Linked DNA regions of Homo sapiens: region 1 is linked to region 2. Evidence: fine-mapped expression QTL. A gene starts in region 2. The other region holds a variant in brackets. All regions are shown on one strand. Distances are from middle to middle. Region 1 overlaps PLAAT3 (phospholipase A and acyltransferase 3). Region 2 holds the start of GANAB (glucosidase II alpha subunit).

Region 1 (15,852 bases), 950 kb after region 2:
GAAATAGTCTGCAGATAATGGAGGAGGAACAATATGTCCCTAGTTCTTTATAGAACCTCATGGTGTGAAAACAAAAGCTGATGCAACTGGTTCATACAAAAGATACTTTGTCAAGGAAAACAACAATAACCTCATTGTTTGTGGCCATGCTTTGTACATAGTCAAAGAGTATGATTAAACACAAGACTGTTGGAAGCTAGTTAGTCCTAATAGTGCAAACTTGATGGGAAAAACTCTCTCTCCAAGAGTCAGTGCTACCTTCAGATGCCATTGATCATTTTCATGTTGCAAGACTGAAAGGTCCAATCCAGCTGCTGTGTTGTTATTACAGGATTTCTGATCATGAAAATGGGCTACCTGGTGTGTGTCACAGGTCTTAAATCAGGATATCAGGATATTGTGAAAGAGAAAAGCTGTCTCTCATTAGAAATATTAAGAAGACTGTTTTTTTTTTAAGTGGGCAAACAAATTCTGCCAGACTACAGACATTTAGACATTTATACTACAAAGCTCTTCTGAGTTAAGCCTTGATTTAGGGAAATCTAAATCATTTCTGGAAAAAAGAAAGTGCTAATGTGCTGCCTTCACTTTCAACAATGTTATAGGTGGATTAAAGAAGAAGTGGAGATAGTAGTGTTATTCTGAAAGCAATCCAATTGAGACTGTTAGAGGTTACAATATAAGAATGGTTATGAAATAGTTGTATATTTTCCAACAGTGATCAAGTATACAAAAAATAATAAATCATTTAAAAAGAAATAAAATATTTGCATAAAAATTTGGTTTCATTTACAGTAATTTCAAAATAATACCCCACAATTTATCCAGATTTATGTAATATATGTATTGCCGCCAGACACATCTTCAATTTCTATTTACCTTAATATTTTCTCTCACTCAGACTAGACTTCATTGTGAGTATAGCTTCTGGTTGCTTTTTTTTTTTTTTTAAGTACTGTTCAGTATGAAAGTTTCTTTACAAAACCCTACTAAAATATATGTTTTTTGAAACCTAAATATTTTTAGGTAGGTGGAAAGTAGGAGAATCTTTTTTTTAGAATATTCTTAGGCATGTAAAGCACAAATTACGTTTTAGTTTAAATTCATTGTTTCCCTTCTCAGGAAATTTGATTAATCATAAACTTTTTTTTTTGTTTTTTTTTGTTTTTTTTTTTTTGAGACAGAGTCTTGCTCAGTCGCCCAGGCTGGAGTACAGTGGTGCAATCTCGGCTCACTGCAAGCTCCGCCTCCTGGGTTCACGCCATTCTCCTGCCTCAGCCTCCCAAGTAGCTGCGACTACAGGCCACCACGCCCAGCTAATTTTGTTTTGTATTTATAGTAGAGACGGGGTTTCACCAGGTTAGCCAGGATGGTCTTGATCTCCTGACCTCGTGATCCACCTGCCTTGGCCTCCCAAAGTGCTGGGATTACAGGCGTGAGCCACCGCACCTGGCCATAAATATTCTTTTGAAGGAAAATCTAGTCTGCTTCAAAGAGCTCAGCACAAATATAATGACTGGTCAGATTCTTTAAAACACACAAAAATATCCTCATGAGTTAAATGAAAAGGAGAGTCACTGCACTGACAGTGCTTACAAAGAAAAATACTGGTGGACATTTTCTGATATGTACTAAATCTATCATCTCTAGCAAGATGGGGCATGCATCGAAGTTCTTTTTTTTTTTTTTTGAGATGGAGTTTTGCTCTTGTTGCCCAGCCTGGAGTGCAATGGCGCAATCTTGGCTCACTGCAACCTCCACCTCCCGGGTTCAAGCAATTCTGCCTCAGCCTCCCGAGTAGCCGGGACTACCGGTGCACACCACCACGCCCAGCTAATTTTTGTATTTTTAGTAGAAACGGGGTTTCACCATGTTGGCCAGTATGGTCTCGATCTCTTGACCTCATGATCTGCCCGCCTCGGCCTCTCAAAGTGCTGGGATTACAGGCATGAGCCACTGCGCCCGGCCAGAAGTTCTATGTTAATTTGACTCACAGCATGTGTCAGTGATCATTACTCACCTAAGTCACTAGTTCTCAACTGGAGACAGTTTTTCCCTGTGGGGGGAATTGTCTACAGACGTTTTTGGTTCTTACATCTGGCGGTGGGATGCTACTGGTATCTAGTGTGTAGAGGCCAGGGATGCTGCTAAGCATCCTACAGTGCACAGGACAGGACTTGACAATGAAGAATTATCTGGCCCATAATGTCAATAGTGCTGAGGCTGAGAAACCCCTATCCTAGACCAAGAAATGAAAGAGGAAATCTTTAGAAGCAGTAGAGATGGCACCTCTGTTTTTGTTGTAGAATATTCTGGCTTCATTTTCTGTGATGGGATCAAGTAGAATTGTTCATGCTGTTTCACTGTTGTGTTATCATTGTTTTGCCTCTTTCAAGTGAATGGGTAGATGGGTAGGGCCAAAGTCCCAGGAAGAAAAGTGTGATGTGTTCAATTTGCATTGTTTCATTTTGCAAGTGTTAAATTATTGTTTACAAAAAGAATAATGGTATAAGACATTTCTTAGTTATTTTACTATCTCAAGATTTGGAATTTTATTTAATTACTCCAAATAGCATTTATGGCCAGGCGCAGTGGCTCACATCTATAATTCCAGCACTTTGGGAGACTGAGGCAGGAGGGTTGCTAGAGACCAAGAGTTTAAGACCAGCCCAGACAACAAAGTGAGACCCTGTCTCTACAAAAAATACAAAAATCAGCCAGGCATGGTGATGTGCACCCATAGTCTCAGCTACTTGGGTGTGTGTGTGTGTGTGTGTGCACGTGTATGTGTGTGTTTGAGAAGGAGTCTCGCTCTGTTGCCCAGGCTGGAGTACACTGGCGCAATCTTGGCTCACTGCAACCTCCACCTCCAGGGTTCAAGCGATTCTCCTGCCTCAGCCTCCTGAGTAGTTGGGACTGCAGGTGCCCGCCATCACACCCAGCTAATTTTTGTATTTTTAGTAGAGACGGGGTTTCACCATGTTGGCCAGGGTGGTCTCAAACTCCTCACCTTAGGTGATCCACCCACCCCAGCCTCCCAAAGTGCTGGGATTACAGGCGTGAGCCACCACGCCCGGCCAGCCCCGTTCTTTATTCTGTTAATAACTGCTGAAAGAATAACTAAATGAGATGATTAGGATATATTTTGTAAACCTACCAAATATTCTTAACGTAGAACTCTGAATTTCAAAAAGTATCTTATTGCTTCCCAAGGTTGTCTTGTACTCTGTATTTGGAGTTTATTGCTGCATAGGAGCATGAGTTTTACCAAGAGTAAGTAAACACCTTGATAGTGATGCAAGATCACCAATGATGAAACTCAATTTGTTATCATGTTTGTCTTTCTTATGCTAATATTGTCACTGCTAATTCAAAAAAAAAAAACTTCTATTATACCTAAATCTGTCAATAAATGTTCATTTTCAAATTTAAAAAGATACATAAATGGGCCAGGCACAGTGGCTCACGCCTGTAATCTTAGCACTTTGGGAGGCAGAAACAGGCAGATCACTTGCAGTCAGGAGTTCCAGACCAGCCTGGCCGATATGGGGAAACCACATCTCTAATAAAAATACAAAAATTACCCAGGTGTGGTGGCACATGCCTTTATTCCCAGCCACTCTGGAGGCTGAGGCAGAAGAATCACTTGAACCCAGGAGGCAGAGGTTACAGCGAGCCAACATCGCACCACTGTGCTCTAGCCTGGGTGACGAAACAAGACTCTGTCTTAATAAATAAAAAGATACATAAATAAAAAACAAGAGAGAGAAGATAAGAAAATCAGCAAAGCAGTCTAGGGATCCAATAGCCTAATAATAGGAGTGCCAGAGAATACAAACTGGAAAATTTCCAAGAACTAAAGAAAGTGAGTTTCCAAGTACCTGGCACAATACATGAAAATAGACCCGTGCAAGGTAATAAATTTCAGAACACTGAGGATGAAGAGAAGATTCTATACAGTTCTGAAAAGAAAAAATAGATCACATACAAACAATAAAAAATCAGAACAGCTTCAGACTTCTCTACCACAATAACAAAAGCTAGATGACAATAAACCAATGCCTTCAAAATTCTGAAAAAAAAAATATTATTTCTAACCTAGAATTCTATACCCAGCCAAATGATTAATCAAATGTGAGGATAAAATAAAGATATTTTCAGGCATGCAAGATCTTTTTTTGTTTGTTTTTTGTTTCTTGGGTCTTTTTTTTTTTTTTTCTGACCAAGTCTCACTCTGTCACCCAGGCTGGAGTACAGTGGCGTGATCTCGGCTCACTGCAACCTCTGCCTCCTGGGTCCAAGCAATTCTCGTGCCTCAGCCTCACCAGTAGCTGGGATTACAGGCGCATGTCACCATGCCTGCCTAGGGATCTTTTTAAAATGTACCATTTCTCAGTAAACTATTAGGGGAAGTAGTCTACCAAAACAAGGGCATAAACCAAAAAAGAGAAGGATGTGAACTACAGAGGATAAAAGCATTAATATAGCAGGGAACTGAAAGAAATTTCTAGGATGCTAGTAAAGAGAGATACCAAGATGACAGCAATGCCTCATCAAGTGTGACAAGAGACAAATGTGGCCGGGCACAGTGGCTTATGCCTGTAATCCTAGCACTTTGGGAGGCTGAGGCGTTAGGATCATTTGAGCTCAGGAGTTCAAGACCAGCCTTGGCAACAGAGTGAGACCTCATCTCTATTAAAATAAAAAACAATAAAATAAAAAAAATTTTTTTTGAGACTGGGTCTTGCTCTGTCACCTAGGCTGGAGTGCAGTGGTGTGATCTCGGCTCACTGCAACCTCTGCCTCCCGGATTCAAGTGATTCTCTTGCCTCAGCCTCCTGAGTAGCTGAGATTACAGATGCCCAGCACCATGCCCGGCTAATTTTTGTATTTTTAGTAGAGATGGGGTTTCACCATGTTGGCCAGGCTGGTCTCAAACTCCTGACCGCAAGTGGTCTGCCCGCCTTAGTCTCCCAAAGTGCTGGGATTACAGGTGCGAGCCACTGTGCCCGGCCTAAAATAAAATTGTTTTAAGAAAAGAAAAACAAGACACAAATGTTTTGAAGGCTGTTATCCCCAAGAGATAGATGTAGTAAGTGCCACCATCCCCTGGTCTCCTGCTTTCTTTCACTGCATCACCTTTTTAACCTGACAATATTCAGGCACTAATGAAGTTCTTCTCATGGCCCTGCCCACTGATTCCCCAGAAGAAAGCTCTTATCAACTCTCAGGGAAGTTGAAGCCAGACCATGACCAACAGACTGCAATCTTCACAAACATTGGCAATATTGCCCTTTCTTTACCTAGTTAGCTATGTACCACCTACTCAATTTCTAAGTTGATCACCTTTAACATTCATATATAAATAGTTGTTGAACATGAATAACCCAACTGATCGAAGAAAAAAATAAGAGGATACCCATTCAAAGGTAACTAATATCCCACTGTAGACAGGTATAGGAACCGCCTAACAAACATGAGGGTTGGTGTAGTAAGCACAGCTGGTTATCAGCAGTATGAAGAGAGTAAGAGTGATTCCTATAGGTGGTGTTAGTCAGTGTCTTCCCATTCAAGTGGCTGTGGCCCACAGAGGCCAGGGGACCAGGCAATGGATGAGCCAAGCAAAAAAAAAAAAAAAAAAAAAGAGGAGGATAATTTAAAAAAAAAAAATGAGGATAATCATGACTATTTTTACTACTACAATGTATTCAGTGTGCTAAGAATAAACATGCTCTTATTTAATTCACAAGGTAATCCTCCAAGATGAGTATTATCATTCGTACTTTACCAAAGTGTAGGGAGCTGGACTAACTCTCCTGAGGTCAGACAGCCGGCAAAAGGCAGAGACCAGGTCCAGCCCACGTTGGCCTGACTCCAGGAGCCCAGGCTCTTAACCACCACACTGACCAGGGAAGAAGAAATTGGATCTCAAAAAAAATAATAATAAAAGTGAACAGCCTGATGGATCTTAAGCTAATCATTCACTGAAAAAAATATGTATTCTTTTGCATCAACAGCCATGTAAGAACCTTCCCAATGTTCTTTTCACCTATGCAAAGAAAAAAAAAAAAAAAAAGATGGAAGTGGCTGAAAGGGAGGGGGAAGAAGTGCAAGGAAATGAGAAGAGAAAAAGAGATTGAAAGGAGAGGAAAGACAAAAATAAAATCAAGTAAATGAACAAAACTGCATCCCCTAGGGTCTCCCAGATTCACCCTTAGGGTTCAGCCAGGCTGAAGACAGTGCTGTTTATAAGCACGATCAGGCTATGCCACACAGACCTGGGCTTCAAATCCCAACTCTGCTAATTATCTGCACAGGAAAAGACAGGTACCAGGTCTGGAGACTCAACAAAGATTTTTTTGATGAAATGAATGGCTGTAGACAAGTTACTTAAGCTCAGTTTCCCAATCTGTAAGGTAGTGGGTCCTAAAACCTGCCTTTAGGGCTGGGGAGGGCCATCTCAGGGACAGGTGGCCAGGGAGGGCTTGGCAATGGGAATGATCATCATGTCTGTGACTCCTTTCCTTGGCCACCCACCCCCGCCCCCGACTACACTGATCTGCATTGCCAACTTGCCTCTCTCCCCACCCTTGTCCCCACCCTTGTCCCAACTGTGACATCCTCAAGGGCAGTAATTCTGTCTCTGCTATTTTGTCTTGTTCATGCCTCCATAGCCATGCCCAGCCTCCGTCAGCAGAGGGAATGGTCTGGTTCCTGGGGAAGGCGACACAGGCAGAGGACGCACCTGGTCACTGCGGGCGACTCCATAGCGCAGCTCATTCACAAAGTGCTCGCAGTTCTCACTGGTCAGCTTGTAGAGCACCTCCTGCCCCACCAGCTCCTCCGCCCGCTGGATGATTTTGCTGCAGGGCAGCGGCGAGTACTTGTCATCATGTTTGTTGTTGACCTGGTACTTGTCACTCCCGGCCACATCATACAGCAATTCCTTCTTCACGATGGCCTTGTCAGTCAGGGCGGACATGACACTGGCTGCACCAGCTCCTGCGACCTCACCTGCAGATCCACAAAGAGGAAACAGAGGGATTGGTCCTGGGAAGGGCCACGGAGGCTCAGAGCTGGCCCCCAGCCGGGCATCTGCCCTTGGCTCATCCACAAAGGATAAGCAACAAGTGGAAGGGTCAGACGCATGGCTGTGGGCCTTGGGGAAGGTGTGTGTGGTCTCTGGGCCCTGGTTTCCTTATCTAAAATGAAAGGGAGTGAAGTTCCATGATTTACTGTGATTTTTTTCTTACTCTAGAGAAGGTGGTCTTCTATACCTCATGACACTTAAGTGGCCCCCTTGGTTATGCAAATATGAGCCAAGAGCATACTCATCCACCTGGGAAGATAAGGTGGGAGACTTTTATGATGGCATCAGGGCTACACCTACTTGACCACACAAAGCTGCTTACTGCAGAAAACATGGCTGGGTTTTCCAGAGTCCCAGCCCTTCTGGAAACAGACCCACCAAAACGCACAGCTGTCCCCCTAGCTGTGATGGATGCTAAGGAGGCTTAGTGGGTACATGGGCACAGCCCAGGCCAAGGCCCAGGGCAAGGAAGGGCCACAAAGCTCCAGAAATGAAATGATCTTGAAGACAAGGAGTCCAGGTTCAACATGAAGACCAGGATGGTGGACAGGGAAAGCTGATGCCAACACAGACTGGGCATTCCTCCCAACTCAAACAACCTGTGTGGCGCAGGGAGAGGCAGGCACTGAGTATGATGATTGAAAAAGTGGGGATGGGCTGGGCACAGTGGCTCATACCTGTAATCCCAGCACTTTGGGAGGCCAAGGCAGGCAGATCGCTTAAGCCCAGGAGTTTCAGACAAGCCTGGGCAACATGGCAAAACTCCGTCTCTACAAAAAATACAAAAACTAGCCGTGTATGGTGGTGTGCACCTGTGATCCCAGCTACTCAGGAGGCTGAGGCAGGAGGATCACTTGAGCCCTGGAGGTTTAGGTTGCAGTCAGCTGAGATTGCGCCGCTGCACTCCGACCTGGACAACAGAGTGAGATCTTGCCTTAGGAAAAAAAGAAAAAGAAAAAGTAGGTATGCACTCAAGGGATGGGCCTACGCACCCAGGGAGCATGTCAAAGGAGGTTCACTCTCACTCTCCTCAAACAGCCACTGTGACCCTGTCAGGGTCAAGGCCCCCAGGGTGCCACAGCAGCACCCTGTTAAACTGGGTAGGACCAGTCTTCAACAATGACATCCGTGTGACAGCAACAGCAGGAGAGGCCGATTAGATTTCAGGTCCTGCTCTTCTCCGCTTTCCAAAGACCAATAAACCTTTTCAGCCTGCATGCAATGCCTACATGCAATGCCAAGATATTAGAAATTTAGGGAATTCAGACTTGATAGGAAAAGGGCACGTGAAGCTTGGAAGATTCATTGAAGTAAATAAAAGAGAGGGTGCCTTATTGGAGCCCTGCGTTTGTCGGGAGGATGAGCTCCTGGGGCCCACCCAGCCTCAGCTCCCAGGCAAAGTGGGTGACAGCGCAGGGACTCGGAAGAGGCAAGCAAGTTGCCTAGAGCCCAAAGTTTAAGGAGGCACCAAATCTCAGGGCCATGCAAGTGCAGAGTCAACAACCAAGAGTGAGGACTTCCTTAAACTTATATCTAGATGCCACCCAGGACAGGGGTACCCTGTGCTCAAGCTGGCGGTGAGAAGCTCTGGGTTCGACCCCAGCACATCACCAACCAGCTGAGTGGTCTGGACCTGTCACTTCACTTTGCTCCAGAAATCCCCAAATACACACTAAAATTGATGCACAAATACATATCAACACAGTAATTTAAAGTTCCTTCTTTTTTTTTTCTTATTTTGAGACAGAGTCTCACTCCATTGCCCAGGCTGAAATGCAGTGGTGTGATCTTGGCTCGCTGCAACCTCCTCCTCCTCAGTTCAAGCGATTCTCATGCCTCAACC[TC/T]CTGAGTAGCTGGGACTACAGGTGTGCACCACCATGCCCAGCTAATTTTTATATTTTCAGTAGAGATGGGGTTTCACCATGTTGGCCAGGCTGGTCTCGAACTCAAGCCTGGTCCGAGCTCAAGCAATCCACCCACCTCGGCCTCCCAAAGTTCTGGGATTACAGGTGTGAGCCACCACACCTGGCCTAAAGTTCCTTCTTTTAAAAAGTGAGTCTACTGAAGAAAATATGAAGTGAACAATCACAGAAAGAGCATGTGGATGTGGCAATCCATCAGCGACTGAATTTTGGGATAGCTTGGACTGGGCAGTGCAGCATTGTGGTTAAGTGCACAGAATCAAGTCAGACTGCCTGGGTTTGGGTCCTGCCTGCACCCCTTACCATTATGCAACCTTGGGTAAGTTTCTTAACTTCTCTGAGTCCCCCATTCCTTGTAGGATAGAAACAAAAATAGTCCCTACTGCACAGGCAGCTGTGAGGATTAAAGGGGTTGGCCAGAAAACATGCTTTCACCAGTGTCTGGCACAGGACAGGCACTTCAGCAAGTTTATAAGCTTCCTTCCAGCTCTAATTTCTACAGTTTTCTCAGCAGCAGAAGGTCAGTCCTCCTTGCCTCATCTATCCCACATGACTCCTGTGAAACTCAAGTGAGATGCAGGTAGAAGCATCTTTTCCTTTGAAGGAGTATCACTGACCTGATGGTCTGTGACACACCTGTCCACCTGTCCACCCGGGTGCTTGTCATGCCTTCCCCAACCCTCTATCTACCACACACACCTGCTCAGTGCAGCCAATCAATACTGAGGCCCTACTGGGTGCCGGGCCTTGTCCAAGGTGCTGAAGTCAGTGACGTGATCTGGACAGCAGGCCTGCCCTCAAGCAATTCCCATGCTACTGAGAAGACGCTGACAATGAACAAATACACAAAATAAGATACTTGCAGGTACCAACAGACACTATGGAAAGACAGAGTGGAGTGACATGGCAAGGATGACCAGCAGAGGCTGCTGTTGCTCAGGCTGGGGAGGCCACCCCAAGGAAAAGGCATCTTTGCTGAAGCTTGAATGATGAAGCATCTAGAACAGAAGGAACAGCAGGAATGAAGTCTGCAGGGAGGAGAGAGCTTGGCATGCCAAGAGGCAGCAAGGAGGCCAACGTTGCTGGAGTCTAGAGACCCAGGAGGGGAGAAGAGAAAGACGAGGCCCAAAGTCACAGACCAGGCCAGACCAGGCCGGGCCCTACAGGCCACAGTGTAGACTTTGATGCTTTGTTTTGGTTTGGTTTTGGTTTGTTTTTTTGAGACGGGGTTTCACTCTGTCACCCAGGCTGGAGTGCAGTGGTGCAATCTTGGTTCACTGCAGCCTCCGCCTCCTGCTCGTGCCTCAGCCTCCGCCTCCTGCTCGTGCCTCAGCCTCCAAGTAGATAGGACTACAGTGGCGCGTCACCATGCCCGACTAATTTTTGTATTTTTAATAGAGACGGGGTTTCGCCATGTTGGCCAGGCTGGTCTCAAACTCCTGATCTCAGGTGATTCACCCACCTCAGCCTCCCAAAATACTGGGATTACAGGCATGAGCCACCGCACCTGGCCCTTGATTTACGCTTTCAAACAATCACACCACCTGCCCATGAATGAGGAACTGGCCGTGAGTGGCAAGAGGCAGAGAGACCAGCCAGAAGTGACACTGCCACCAGGCGAGGGAGGGTGGTTGCTCATACCAGGGCGCTGCAGTGGGGATGGTAAGAAGTGGTCAGAGCTGGGGTCTGTTTCAGAGATAAAGCCAACAGGATTCCCTGATAGATTAGACATGGGTTGGAAGGAACGGAGAATGACTCCTAGGCTTTAGGCCTGAGCAGCTGAATGGTGTCTTCCACTGGAGCCTCCCATTTGGGGCAGATCAAGTTCAAGATGCCAGGTAGACACCCAAGTGGAGTTACCAAGTAGTCAAGAGGTTATGCAAGTCTGAAGCTGAAGGGGGATGTAAATTGAGGGTTTGGGCTTAGGAGATATTGACAAATAGAAGGTATTGGAAGCTAAGGAATCCAATGAGGTCATCTGAGCTCGATTTAGGGAAATGAGAGAGGAGGAGGAGCCCACACAAGAGACCAAAAAAGAAGGGCCCAGAGGGAGAGGAAGAAAGTCAGGTGCCAGGTGGAGAGCAGGAAGGTCACTCACATCAAATGCTGCAGAGAAGCCAAGTCAGCTGTGATGGGACTTGGCTTTAAGCTTTGGCAAGATGTGGAAGCTTTTCCCTACCCTTGAGAACTGCTCTGTCAGGGGGGCAAAAAAAGAGAGTCTGAGAGCAAAACTCCATCTCAAAAAAAAGAAAAAAAGAAAAAGAAAAAAGAAAGTGTGGGTATAGGGGATGGAAGGCAGAATGGGAAGCGAGGAACCGGAGGTGGCCAGGCAGACAAAGCTGTAATGAGATCTGCTCTGTAGGGCGTTAAGCAGAGAAGGATGTGAGGCCGGGCGTTTGATCAACGGGATATATTACAGCTGTCTCTATGTCAATACGAATGATCCAGTTGAAAGGGAGAAGATGACAATACAGAAGGAGGTGGGGAATTTGAGGAGCAAAGTGCTTATGAAAGGAAGAGGAGGGGGTGGGGGTACATGGGTAAGGGGCTCAGGGTGGGGAAGATGACATCTACTCTGGTTACTACTGATAGGGTGAGGCCACTAGTTAGAATTAAAACGATATGCAAAAGACATGTTCAAGGGCCGTGCGCGGTGGCTCACGCCTGTAATCTCAGCACTTTGGGAGGCCGAGGCAGGCAGATCACTTGAGGTCAGGGGTTTGAGACCAGCCTGGCCAACATGGTGAAATCCCATCTCTACTAAAAATACAAAAATTAGCTGGGCATGGTGGTGCGTGCCTGTAATCCCAGCTACTCCAGAGGCTGAGGCAGGAGACTCGCTTAAAAGCAGGAGGTGGAGGTTGCAGTGAGCCAAGATCATGCCCCTGCACTCCAGCCTGGGCCACAGAGCAAGACTCCGTCTCGGAAAAAAAAAAAAAAAAAAAAGAGTGTCTATAACAGCTCTATTCATAGCAGTCAAAACCTGCAATGAGTCTGATGTCAGAAAAATGGATGCTAAATTGTAGCATATTCATATAACAGAAAATACACAGCAGTGAAAAAGAATTCCTGCTACTCACAGCAGCATGGATGACTCACATGGGCATGATGTTGGCTAAAAGAAGCCAGACACAAAAGAGCACGGGCCGTGTGATACCTCTTCCATGAAGTTCTAGAACAGGCAAAACTCATCTATGGCAGGAAAAGCTAGAATGATGGTTGCCTGGGCGAGGCGTGGGGAGGCATATTGTAGAAGCATGAGAGAGCCTTTCAGGGTAAGTGGCACAGTGGGAATGTTCTAGATGTGGATCTGGGGCACTGTTACATGGATGGTTTTTTTTAATTCACTGACTGTATACTTTACTATGCTTGTACATTTTACAATACTTATGTTATACCCCAGTTTAAGTTAAAGGCTTAAGAGAAGGGTGAGGAATTCTCACAAGAGTTCTCCAAGTTAAGTATTCATATCCTCAGTTTGCAAAAAAGGAAATCAAGGCTGAAGAATGGAAACTGGATTCATAACCAAGTCTCTCTGCCCAAACACCTGCACTCTTCCCAGGAGCTTTACGCTTAAGAGTTGAGTGTGTTGCGGCCGGGCACAGTGGCTCACGCCTGTAATCCCAGCACTGTGGGAGGCCAAGGAAGGCGGATCACGAGGTCAGGAGATCGAGACCATCCTGGCTAACACAGTGAAACCCCGTCTCTACTAAAAATACAAAAAATTAGCCAGGGGTGGTGCCAGGTGCCTGTAGTCCCAGCTACTCAGGAGCCTGAGGCAGGAGAACGGCGTGAACCCGGAGGCAGAGCTTGCAGTGAGCCGAGATCGCGCCACTACACTCCAGCCTGGGCGACAGAGCGAGACTCTGTCAAAAAAAAAAAAAAAAAAAAAAAAAAAGAGTTGAGTGTGTTGCATACAAAGTCACGGCATAAAAAACACATCAAAACAGAGCTTCGTCCTCAGATGCCACCTTGGTCCCTCTACAGCAGCGGTCCCCAACCTTTTTAGCACCAGGGACTGGTTTTGTGGAAGACAATTTTTCCATGGACTCGGCAGTGGGGAGGGATGGTTTCGGGATGATTCAAGCACATGACATTTATTGTGTACTTTATTTCTATTATTATTACATTGTAATATATAATGAAATAATCATACAACTGACGATAATGCAGAATCAGTAGGAGCCCTGAGCTTGTTTTCCTGCAACTAGATGGTCCCTTCTGGGGTGACGGGTGACAGTGACAGATCATCAGGCATTAGATTCTCATAAGGAGTGATATGGTTTGGCTCTGTATCCCCACCCAAATCTCATGTCAAACTGTAATCCCCATGTGTCAGGGGAGGGACTATATGGGAGGTGACTGAATCATGAGCGAGATTTCCCTCATGCTGTTCTCATGATAATGAGTGAGTTCTCACAAGATCTGATGGTTTAGAAGTGTGGCACTCCGGACATGGTGGCTCATGTCTGTAATCCCAGCACTTTGGGAGGCTGAGGCAGGTGGATCTCCCGAGGTCCAGAGTTCAAGACCAGCCTGACCAATATGATGAAAATCCATCTCTACTAAAAATAGAAAAATTAGTCGGGCGTGGTGGCAGGTGCCTGTAATCCCAGCTACTCGGGAGGCTGAAATAGGAGAATCACTTGAACCTGGGAGGTGGAGTTTCCAGTGAGCCGAGATTGTGCCATGGCACTCTACCCTGGGCAAGAAAAGCGAAACTCCATCTAAAAAAAAAAAAAGTGTGGCACTCCCCCGCCTCCTGCCACCATATAAGACCTGCCTTGCTTCCCCTTCACCTTCTGCCATGATGGTAAGTTTCCTGAGGCGTCCCCAGCCATGCAGAACTGTGAGTCAATTAAACCTCTTTCTGAAGGGCCGGGCGCGGTGGCTCACGCCTGCAATCCCAGCATTTTGGGAGGCTGAGGCAGGTGGATCACGAGGTCAGGAGATCGAGACCATCCTGGCTAACACGGTGAAACCCCGTCTCTACTAAAAATACAAAAAATTAGCCAGGTGTGGTGGCAGGCACCTGAGTAGTCCCAGCTACTCAGGAGGCTGAGGCAGGAGAATGGCGTAAACCCAGGAGGCGGAGCTTGCAGTAAGCCGAGATTGCGCCACTGCACTCCAGCCTGAGTGACAGAGCAAGACTCTGTCTCAAAAAAAACAAAAAACAAAACTCTTTTCTTTATAAATTACCCAGTCTCGGGTAGTTCTTTATAGCAGTGTGAAAACAGACTAATACAAGGAGTGTGCAACCTAGATCCCTTGCGTGTGCAGTTCACAGTAGGGTTCATGCTCCTATGAGAATCTAATGCCGCTGCTGATCTGACAGGAGGTGGAGCTCAGGCGGTAATACAAGCGATGGGGAGCAGCTGCAAATACAGATGAAGTTTCGCTCACTTGCCCACCACTCACCTCCTGCTCTGGAGCCCAGTTCCTACCCAGTACCAGTCCATGGCCTGGAGGTTGGGGACCCCTGCTCTAAAGAACCCCCTGAGGTTCCCAGGAGCAGACCTTGAAAACCAGTGCCCCACACCAAACTGCCCCATATCAAACTTCTTGTAACATTCAGAGACAACTGCCAGTTGGGAAGCAAGAAGAATGTTGGGGTCACCTGTTACCCACAGTTCCCCATCCCCTCTCTTCCCAGCCCCTGGGGCCCATCACAGTGGAGGTCCCATGTGTTCTTACTTGGAGGGGCCAGATGAACCACATATCCATCGCCAACATAGATGGCCCAGTGTCTGTAGAAAGGGCGAAAAATCTCAATCAGGTCTCCAGGCTTAGGCTCTGGCTGCAAAACCAAGAACAGGGCTGTTAGAGGGAGCATGAGATCGTGGAACCAGGACAGGGCTCAGTGAGGAAGGTGCAGCTGAGTGGTCCCCAGCTATCAGCTCAGCAGAACATATGTCCTGAGCCCTGCTCTGCCAGGTCCAATGCCAGTCCAACTTCACAAGCTTGTGACCCAGACCTGCAGGCACCATGGGCCTGCCCTTCTGTCAATACAAATTGCCAAGTGCAAACCTAAAAGGTTTCTTCATGAGCTGGAGTCTCTGCCTTATTATTTCTAGGAATATTATTTATTGAACTCTTACTCTGAGCCAAGCACTCCACTCTCCATGTTTTACAAGATGGCTCAATAAATCCACACAACCATCCAATGATGAACCCCATTTTATGGATGAGGAAATCAAGGCCTAGAAATGTAAAAGAATTTGTGCAAAGACATATAACTCATGAGTGACTTGGCCAGGACTGAACGCCCAGTTGGCTGATTCCCAGCCCAGTCTGACCATCAGGAAACACCACCAGTTATGTGACTAGAGCTGCCCACCTGGGGTCCATGCCAGAGGCTGCCAGATCTGGAGGGCATTCCACAGACACTCCCCAACACCTGGCCTGGGCCTAATGGAGAACTGGCATCAGTCTCCAGCAGTAATGTCCCCCGGCTGCTCAGCCTGATGCTAAGGTGTGCATGTTCACATTGAGTGAGTATGTGTGTGAGGGTGGATGCATGAGTGTGAGACTACGTGTGAGAGTGAGTGTGCGTATGTGAGAAGGGGAAGGTAGGGAGGGTGCAGTAAATGCTCTCACCCTGTTAGGGGAGCATGGGGCAGAGTTTGAGAAAACTTCAGAGAGGTTCAAGATCCCATCCATTCAACATTATCCACGTCCATTCAGCATTAACCACATCCCAGAATCAGACCCTGCACTGAGTGCTGGGGGAGGGGAAGTTCCGACTCTCACTAGAATCAGGGGTAAAGAACTTCTCCAGGCCAACCTTTAAACCCCTTTAATGAGCAAAGAAATCAACCTTTCAGAACACCTAGAGACAGA
Region 2 (8,000 bases):
ATTTTTAAAAAGTTGTGGTTTTTGTTTTTTTTCTGGCCAGGCGCAGTGGCTCACACCTGTAAACCCAGCACTTTGGGAGGCCGGGGTGGGCGGATCACAAGGTCAGGAGTTCGAGACCAGGCTGGCAAAGAGACCAGCCTGGCCAATATGGTGAAACCCCATCTCTACTAAAAATACAAAAATTAGCCAGGCATGGGAGCAGGGGCCTGTAATCCCAGCTATTCAGGAGGCTGAGGCAGGAGAACTGCTTGAACCAGGAGGTGGAGGTTACACTGAGCAGATCATGCCATTGCACTCCAGCCTGGGCAACAGAGCGTGACTCTGACTCAAAAAAAATAAATAAAAATTTTTTTTGGTAGCAACAGGGCCTCACTTTGTTGCCCAGGCTGGTCTTAAACTCCTGGGCTCAAGCAGTCCTCCCATCTTGGCCTCCCAAAGTGTTGGGATTATAGTGTCAGCCACTGTGCCCAGCCTGCCTGCAGTTTTTAACAATATCAGTGACCTGGTCTCACTTCTAAAAATTTTAACTTAATCAGAGAGAAGCCTGGGCATCAGACTTTTTTTTTTTTTTTGAGATGGAGCCTTGCTCTGTCACCCAGGTTGGAGTGCAGTGACATGATCTCAGCTCACTGCAACCTCTGCCTCCTGGGTTCAAGCGATTCTCCCGCCTCAGCCTCCCGAGCAGCTGGGATTACAGGTGCCCACCACCATGCCCAGCTAATTTTTTGTATTTTTAGTAGAGACGGGGTTTCATCATGTTGGCCAGGCTCGTATCGAACTCCTGACCTAGATCCGCCCGTCTCAGTCTCCCACAGTGCTGGGATTACAGGCGTTGTGTCATCGCGCCCCACTGGCTAAAGTTTTTTTAAAGTTCCCTAAACAACTCTAATGAGCAACCTGGGTTCACAACCACTTCTTTACATGCATCTTCTTTTCCCTTTCTTCCATTGTTTTCTTGGTGAATATAGGGTTGGGGTTTATTTCCAGATGGGAAAATTAAAGCATAAAAGGTTGAATAGTTCACCCAAGATTAAATAGCTGGTAAGGGATGAAACGAACTGAACCCAGTTGTGCTTGACTCTGGGGCCCATGTGCTTTACCATGATGCACAATACAGCACACTAATCACTAGCAGGATGAAATGGGCCTGTCTCATTGAGGACCATCATCCCAAGGTTATCACGAATTGTCAATTTCCCAATGTGCTATGAAATGACAGATAAGAGACTAATAGGCTTATTTAAATAAGTTAGTTTGAAGAATATATTCATCCAGGATTCATCCTTAGGATTCTGAATAAATCCTAAACAGAGATTCTCAAATTTTAATGTCTGTTAAGAATCAGCCAGGCATGGTAGCTCACACCTATAATCTTGGCACTTTGGGAGGCCCAGGTGGGCAGATCACGAGATCAGGAGTTAGACCAGCCTGGCCAACATGGCGAAACTCCATCTCTACTAAAAATACAAAAATTAGGCCGGGCGTGGTGGCTCACACCTGTAATCCCAGCTCTTTGTGAAGCTGAGGCGGGTGGATCACCTGAGGTCAGGAGTTTGAGGCCAGCCTGGCCAACATGATGAAACCCCGTCTCTACTAAAAATACAAAAAAAAAATTAACAGGGCATGGTGGCACACGCCTGCAGTCCCAGCTACTCAGGAGGCTGAGGCAGGAAAATTGCTTGAACCCGGGAGGCAGAGGTTGCAGTGAGCCAAGGTTGTGCCACTGCATTCCAGCCTGGGCGACACAGCGAAACACCACCTAGAAAAAAATAGATATATACAAAAATTAGCCAGGCGTAGTGGCACATGCCTATAATCCCAGCTACTGGGGAGGCTGAGGAACGAGAATGGTTTGAGCCTGGGAGTCAGAGGTTGCAGTGAGCTGAGATCGCACCACTGCACTCTAGCCTGGGTGACAAAGTGTGACTCTGTCTCAAAAACAAGAAAAAAAAGTTGCCCAGGCTTGTCTTGAACTTCTAGGCTAAAGCCATCTTTCCACCTTGGCCTTCCAAAATGCTGGAATTACAGGCGTGAGCCACTGCACCCACCCTGGATACCGCATTTTATTTTTAATTTTTTTTGAAACTGAGTTTCACTCTTGTTGCCCATGCTGGAGTGCAATGGCACGATCTTGGCTCACCGCAACCTCTGCCTCGCGGGTTCAAGCAATTCTCCTGCCTCTGCCTCCCAAGTAGCTGGGATTACAGGCGCGTGCCACCACACTCGGCTAATTTTGTATTTTTAGTAGAGACGGGGTTTCTCTGTGTTGGTCAGGCTGGTCTCGAACTCCCAACCTCAGGTGATTCGCCAGCCTCGGCCTCCCAAAGTGCTGGGATTACAGGTGTGAGCCATCGTGCCCGGCTGACACCACATTTTAAACATGCTCTCCCAGTGACACTGATATGGGCAGAATACGAGCATACTCTGAGAAAGTGTTTCAAACTGGGGGTGGGAGGGTTCTTCTAAGCAATAAAGTTTTACAACCAGCCAGGCACAGTGGCTCACGTCTATAATCCTAGCACTTTGGGAGGTCAAAAAGGGAAGATTGGGCAACACAGCAAGACCTCGTCTCTACTTAAAAAAAAAAAAGAGTAGCAAGGCATGGTGGCAGGTGCCTGTAGTCCCAGCTAATCAGGAGGCTGAAGCCGGAGGACTGCCTGAACGCAAGAGTTTGAGGCTGCATGAGCTACGATTGCACCACTGCTCTCCAGCCTGGGCCACAGCACAAGACTCTGTCTCAAAAAAGTAAATTAATTAAGACTGGTCAATGGGGTGTCTACTAAAAATACAAAAATTAGCTGGGCACGGTGGCACACGTCTGTAATCCCAGGACTCGGGAGGATGAGGCAGGAGAATCGCTTGAACTCGGGAGGTGGAAGCTGGAGTAAGCCGAGATTGCACCCCTGCACTCCATCCTAGGCAACAGAGCGAGACCCTGTTTCAATAAGTAAACAAACAAATAAATAAATAAATAAAATTTGACAACCTATAATAAGGTAACTAAAGACAGGGTCTATTATACACATTGTATCTAGTTATCTAGCATTAGCTTCAGCATCTGCTTGAAAGCTAAAAGAAAATTACCAGAAATGAGATCACAGAGTGTACTATGATCTCATCACAGGACTCTCCTCCAGCTCCAGAGGAATGTACGAAACAACTGTTCCACAGCAGGCCAGACAGAAAAATGAAGAAAACACTAGGCACTGTGGTTTAATAGGCCAAGCAGAATAAATGCTACCACAAAACTCCATAGCAAGGCATGCGGCACAGGTCCTGCAGTGAGTGACCTGAGTGACTGCAACAGGCACTCTTGGCCACTGACCCACGTCCACCTGCCAAAAGCAGCAGTAAATAGAAGTACAGTGAGTTGAGGCCGGGCGCGGTGGCTCACGCCTGTAATCCCAGCACTTTGGGAGGCCGAGGCGGGTGGATCACGAGGTCAAGAGATCGAGATCATCCTCACCAACATAGTGAAACCCCGTCTCTACTAAAAATACAAAAAAATAGCCAGGCGTGGTGGCGGGTGCCTGTAGTCCCAGCTACTCGGGAGGCTGAGGCAGGAGAATGGCGTGAACCCAGGAGGCGGAGCTTGCAGTGAGCCGAGATCTCGCCACTGCACTCCAGCCTGGGCAACAGAGCGAGACTCTGTCTCTCAAAAAAAAAAAAAAAAGACGTACAGTGAGTTAAATACCCTCTGGGGCCCTATTTGCACAGTCTGTAAAATTGGTTCGGAAAGATGCCAATGGAGATAGGATTCCTAAAGCATCTTTCAGATATGACCTGTTGGAGGGCCCTAAGGAATTCACGGCGGCCTTGACCACCCCAAGAGAGGTGTTCATAGGCCAAAGTCAGGAATAAGCTGCAGGGCAAGTTGCACGCATTTATTGTTTCAGATCACAGGCTCCGAGGGAACTGAGTTTATGATCCACGCTTTCTTCATCGCTTTGGAGAGTACACGCCTACCCCACCCCAGTATATCCGTTAGGTCCTAGTAAACATTTGTGGCACTGGTGATATGTTTCGAATCTTTTTTTTTCCCCAGTAATATAAACCCGAGAGCGTGGACCAAGCCATTCGATTACATGTTGTGTTTGAGCAACACCATCCACGCCGTGAGCTTACTGGACCCTGGGCCGTGCCCAGCGACCGTGGACACTGAACTAAGCCAGAGCTGGTGCTCACGTGAAGACAAGGGCAGAGGAGGATTCGGAGCTCTACAGGGTAGAGCCAGAAGGGTAGTACAGGCTTAACTGCTGGCCCGGTGCTTCCAGCTCAGCCGAGGGGCCGCGGGGCCGCAGGCTGCATTCCCCGAGGCCAGGCCGCATCTTTTCCCCCGCCCCGACGACCCCGCGCACTGCAGGAAGGGGGCGGCGACGTTGACCGCCGCAAGCAGCCAAAGGAGGGCGGCGGCTGAGAGCGGCCAAGACCAAGAAAGACGCACAGCTGTGGCTTTACTAAACCGCCGGGCGGGAGCCCGGAGCCCCACAGGCAAGGCCCCCAGCGTCGCTCGGATCTACCACGGGGAGACCGGAGGCGTCTGAGGCCGCCTCCAGAGGAACAAAGGTTCCTCACGAGGCCGGGGGTGGCAGAGTGTCAAGAGACACACAGGAAGGAGTGGAATGGGACTTGGGGGATCTGGGGGCGTCCCGGGCGCGCCCCCAGATTCCGGGCTCCTCACCGCCTCCTACGCGCCGCCACTGCCGCTACCGCCGCCATCTTGTGCAGAGTTTGCTCCTTGACCCCAAACCTCCCGCCCCATCGCGCGCGCTCAGCCACGTATCCTAGTTCCCGCCCCTTCCGGCCTTATGATTGGTTCGACCTGAGCGCCGCCGGGCAGCTGTCTCATTGGTAGAGTGCGCACTCCAAATTATCGCAGGGGGCGGGGCTTCAGGCCAGGGGCGGGAACGTCCAGAGCCAGGCGCTGTCAGACTTTGCACGCTCTCAGCATGACAGAAGCACTGGACTGGTTTTCTCAAGTTGGCAAATTTTATTTAGAAAAAAAAAAGTGGGAGAGAAAAAAGTGACAGCGCTCTTTAGACCAAGGACTTAGAAGAGAAACCTCCACCCTTCCGGAGCACGTTAGTCCCTTCCCTCTCTCACTGCTCAACCTCCCTGGGCTTCCAGAGCAAGAAAAGGCTACGTCCCCTGTCGAAGGAGAGTGGACGGTGAAGGTGCCTGGAAACGGCCAGAGAAAAGACCTAGGCGGTCGATGTTGCGGTGGAGGACACTGTGCAGCACAGCCAGATGGGGTCCACCCTCACCTCCACCCTCCCTGGAGAAGTCCCGAATGAAGCGACCCCGCTCTGATTGGAAGATGAACTTCTGAGGCAAGGGCCCATGCTCCCGGAGAAAACCCCAGACACTGAGCAGCAGCAGACGCACCTCGAAAGGTGCCAGTTGGCTAAATACTTCATGCATATTACCCAGGGCCGGAGGCAGGAGGCTTCCCTCAGCCATGACAGCCACTAAGGTGCAGGATGCCTCCAGGTGCCAGGGGGAGTGGGTCGTGTCAGGGTGGCGAGAGGCTTCCCAATGGCCCAAGAGGGCGGCCAGCAGCCCCCGAAGCAGCACGGAACAGTAGCACAGGGCTGGGGGTGCAGCTGCTACCAGCTTTAACAGCTCAAAGAGCAGGGGCTGTTCGCGGAAGCGCCGGCCAATGCGGAGATCCCGCTCCACGGTGGCCCGGGCGTGTTCCTCGGGGGGCCAGGCCAGCTCTGCACCAGCTGCATCGGGACACACACTCTCCACCAAGGTCACTGCCACTGCTTTGGCTGCCTCTGGACTCAAGATGGGTGCCCCCCAGCATTCCCCACATTCAGTGCCCCCTGGGGCACTGCAGCAGTGAACCAGGAGGCTGAGGAGGCTCTGGGTGTTATAGATCACTTCCTGCTGATTTCGTGACTGGACAAACTTGGGTGGCTTTAAGCCACGGCCGATGACTCCAGCATGGAAAACTGACCAAATCCCTCCAGGACCTGGCACAGCTGCAGTGTGCCTCCGGTTAGTGTCCAACAGGGAGGCAGAAGCCAAAGAAGCTGAAACAACTGAGAGAGTCTCATTGTCCCCATCTACTTGCCCACCAAACAGTTCTGTGTTGCCTCGATGTAAGGCTCCTTCAACCAGCAGCTGCAGGACAGCCTTGAGCCCAGCTGGGGATGTCTGAGACAGGCGGGTGAGAAGCTGACAGGCTGAGGCCACACCTGGGGGTCCATGCAGCCTCAGAGAGGCAAAGAAGCGGTGCACCCCAGCCCTTACCAGTCCCAGGAGCTGGGAGGGGGATAAGGCTTCAGAAGGAAAGGGACAAATGGCCAGGAGAGAGGCAGCAGCTTCAGCTACTTCCTCCTCAGGATGTAGCAGGAGAGGAGCCAGGTCAGACAGATGGGCTGAGGCAGATTCCCCAAAGTGCGCCCCTAGGGCTGCAGGGCCCTCGCCACCCTGCTGTTCCCACCCTACTAGCAGTGCCAAGTTGCGCAGGAACCGGGCCGTGAAGGGAGGCTGTAATGTCCCTGCATGCACCCGAGCCAGACAGCTTCGGAAAGCCAGGGGCAGGAGGCCAGAGAGGCTGACCACTAGCCCTGCATATAACTGGGTGGCCAAACTCAACTCTTCAGGGCTTCGGGCTCGGCTCAGCAGATGGCCCAAGGCCTCAGGTCCACAGCTAGGCCGGGTATAGACAGACAGCAGGCCCAAGAGCTGGTGCTGCCAGAGGAAGCGCTTCCGTTCCAATCGTAACGTCTCTCCACACAGCTCTCCAACATGGTTTTTGAGCGCATCTAAAAAGGGCACCAAGCGGGGAGGTGGGGGCGGGCCTAGCACCCCTTCCCCAGGAGACCCTCCCCGGTGATGAACCAGTTTTTGCAGGTGCAGCAGCAGCAGCTGGATTAGCCGGTCACAAGCCTCACGCACGGTGTCTGGCACAGCCAGGCCCTGGGTGGTAATGACCGAAGCAGGCATAGCTGTGTCCACCAGGAACTGCAGCAAGCGGTAGGCACCTGCCCCAGAGGCCTGGCTCACCAGGTGCACAGCCAGGTTCAACATGTTGTCCAGCTCCTCTCGGGGGAATCCTTGAAGGTGTTGCTGCAGCTGGCTCAGCACAGCTGGGGGCTTGAGGCAATCCACAAGCTCTCCAGAGACAGTGCCCAGCAAAGCTGGTGACATGACTGCCAGCTGCAGTAGGAACGGAACCGTGGCCTGAAGGGAGGGGTCCCCACTGCGGCCTCCAGATCCCCCTGCCAGGCTATCATGGAACATTCGCAGGAGCTCCCGTCGGATGCTATCTCCGTGGCGGGAGGCCAGGTGACCTAGGATGCCTACAACTGAGGCAATCTTGGGCACCCGTTTCTCCGCAGGAATGGCAGGAGATCCAGGGAAGGGGTCTGTAGAGGGGGTCTGAGAAGAGCTTCCACCACTACTGCCAGCTCCACCTCCAGCCCCACCATGGACACAAAAGTCCTTAAGGCCACAGGAGAGAACCCGGGAAATGATGGTGCCAGGAAAAGAGGAGCCAATATGTGCCACAACCCAGTCAAAGTGTGGAGAATGCTGAACAGAGGTATCCAGCAAGGCATCCACACACGCATCTGGGCAGCTACCAATGAGAGCCGAGAGGCACTGCACATAGATGTCCATTAATGTACGCGTGGCCCTACAACCCATCCACAGCTGTAGCAGTTCATTAAGAGCGCCAGTAGCGTGGGGAACACGCTGGTGCTGGCCTGAGTACGTGCTGCTCAGTTGCCCCATGAGGTCAATGGACCATGCACTAATCACAGGTGCCCAGGCCTTTGGGTTGGCCCGGATAAACTCAGACAGCACCTGCTGCACTTCCTGAACCACATCCTCTAGACCAGGTCCACCAGCAGGGACATGAGAGGGTGGAGGTGGACGGAGGTGAGGTGGACCAGCCACAGGGGTTTCATCCAGGGCAGCCAGGTGGGCCCGGACACTCTCATCAAAGACACCTCTCAAGTGGTCAAGCACAGCAGCCCGAGCAGGTG

The links. PIP is the estimated chance that this variant, and not a neighbour inherited with it, causes the effect.
Region 1: its variant is fine-mapped to the expression of GANAB in ovary (GTEx, PIP 0.93).

Annotation. Positions count from the first base shown.
Region 1 is chr11:63,583,355-63,599,206 of GRCh38, forward strand. It overlaps PLAAT3 (phospholipase A and acyltransferase 3), which reads right to left. Exons shown (of 5, transcript NM_001128203.2): 3 at 14,707-14,809; 4 at 6,746-7,014. LOC105369335 (a long non-coding RNA gene) reads left to right here. Exons shown (of 3, transcript XR_950179.3): 2 at 3,214-3,273; 3 at 6,675-6,736. Among named protein-coding and RNA genes, the nearest start is that of PLAAT3, 23 kb to the right of the region's middle. The variant TC/T (reference allele first, on the strand shown) is at 8,934.
Region 2 is chr11:62,641,881-62,649,880 of GRCh38, forward strand. GANAB (glucosidase II alpha subunit) reads right to left here and starts at 4,733. Exons shown (of 24, transcript NM_198334.3): 1 at 4,682-4,733. The coding sequence starts at 4,719. INTS5 (integrator complex subunit 5) reads right to left here. Exons shown (of 2, transcript NM_030628.2): 2 at 4,968-8,000. The coding sequence ends at 5,140. RefSeq lists enhancers at 2,932-3,739, 4,055-4,214 and a silencer at 4,825-4,904.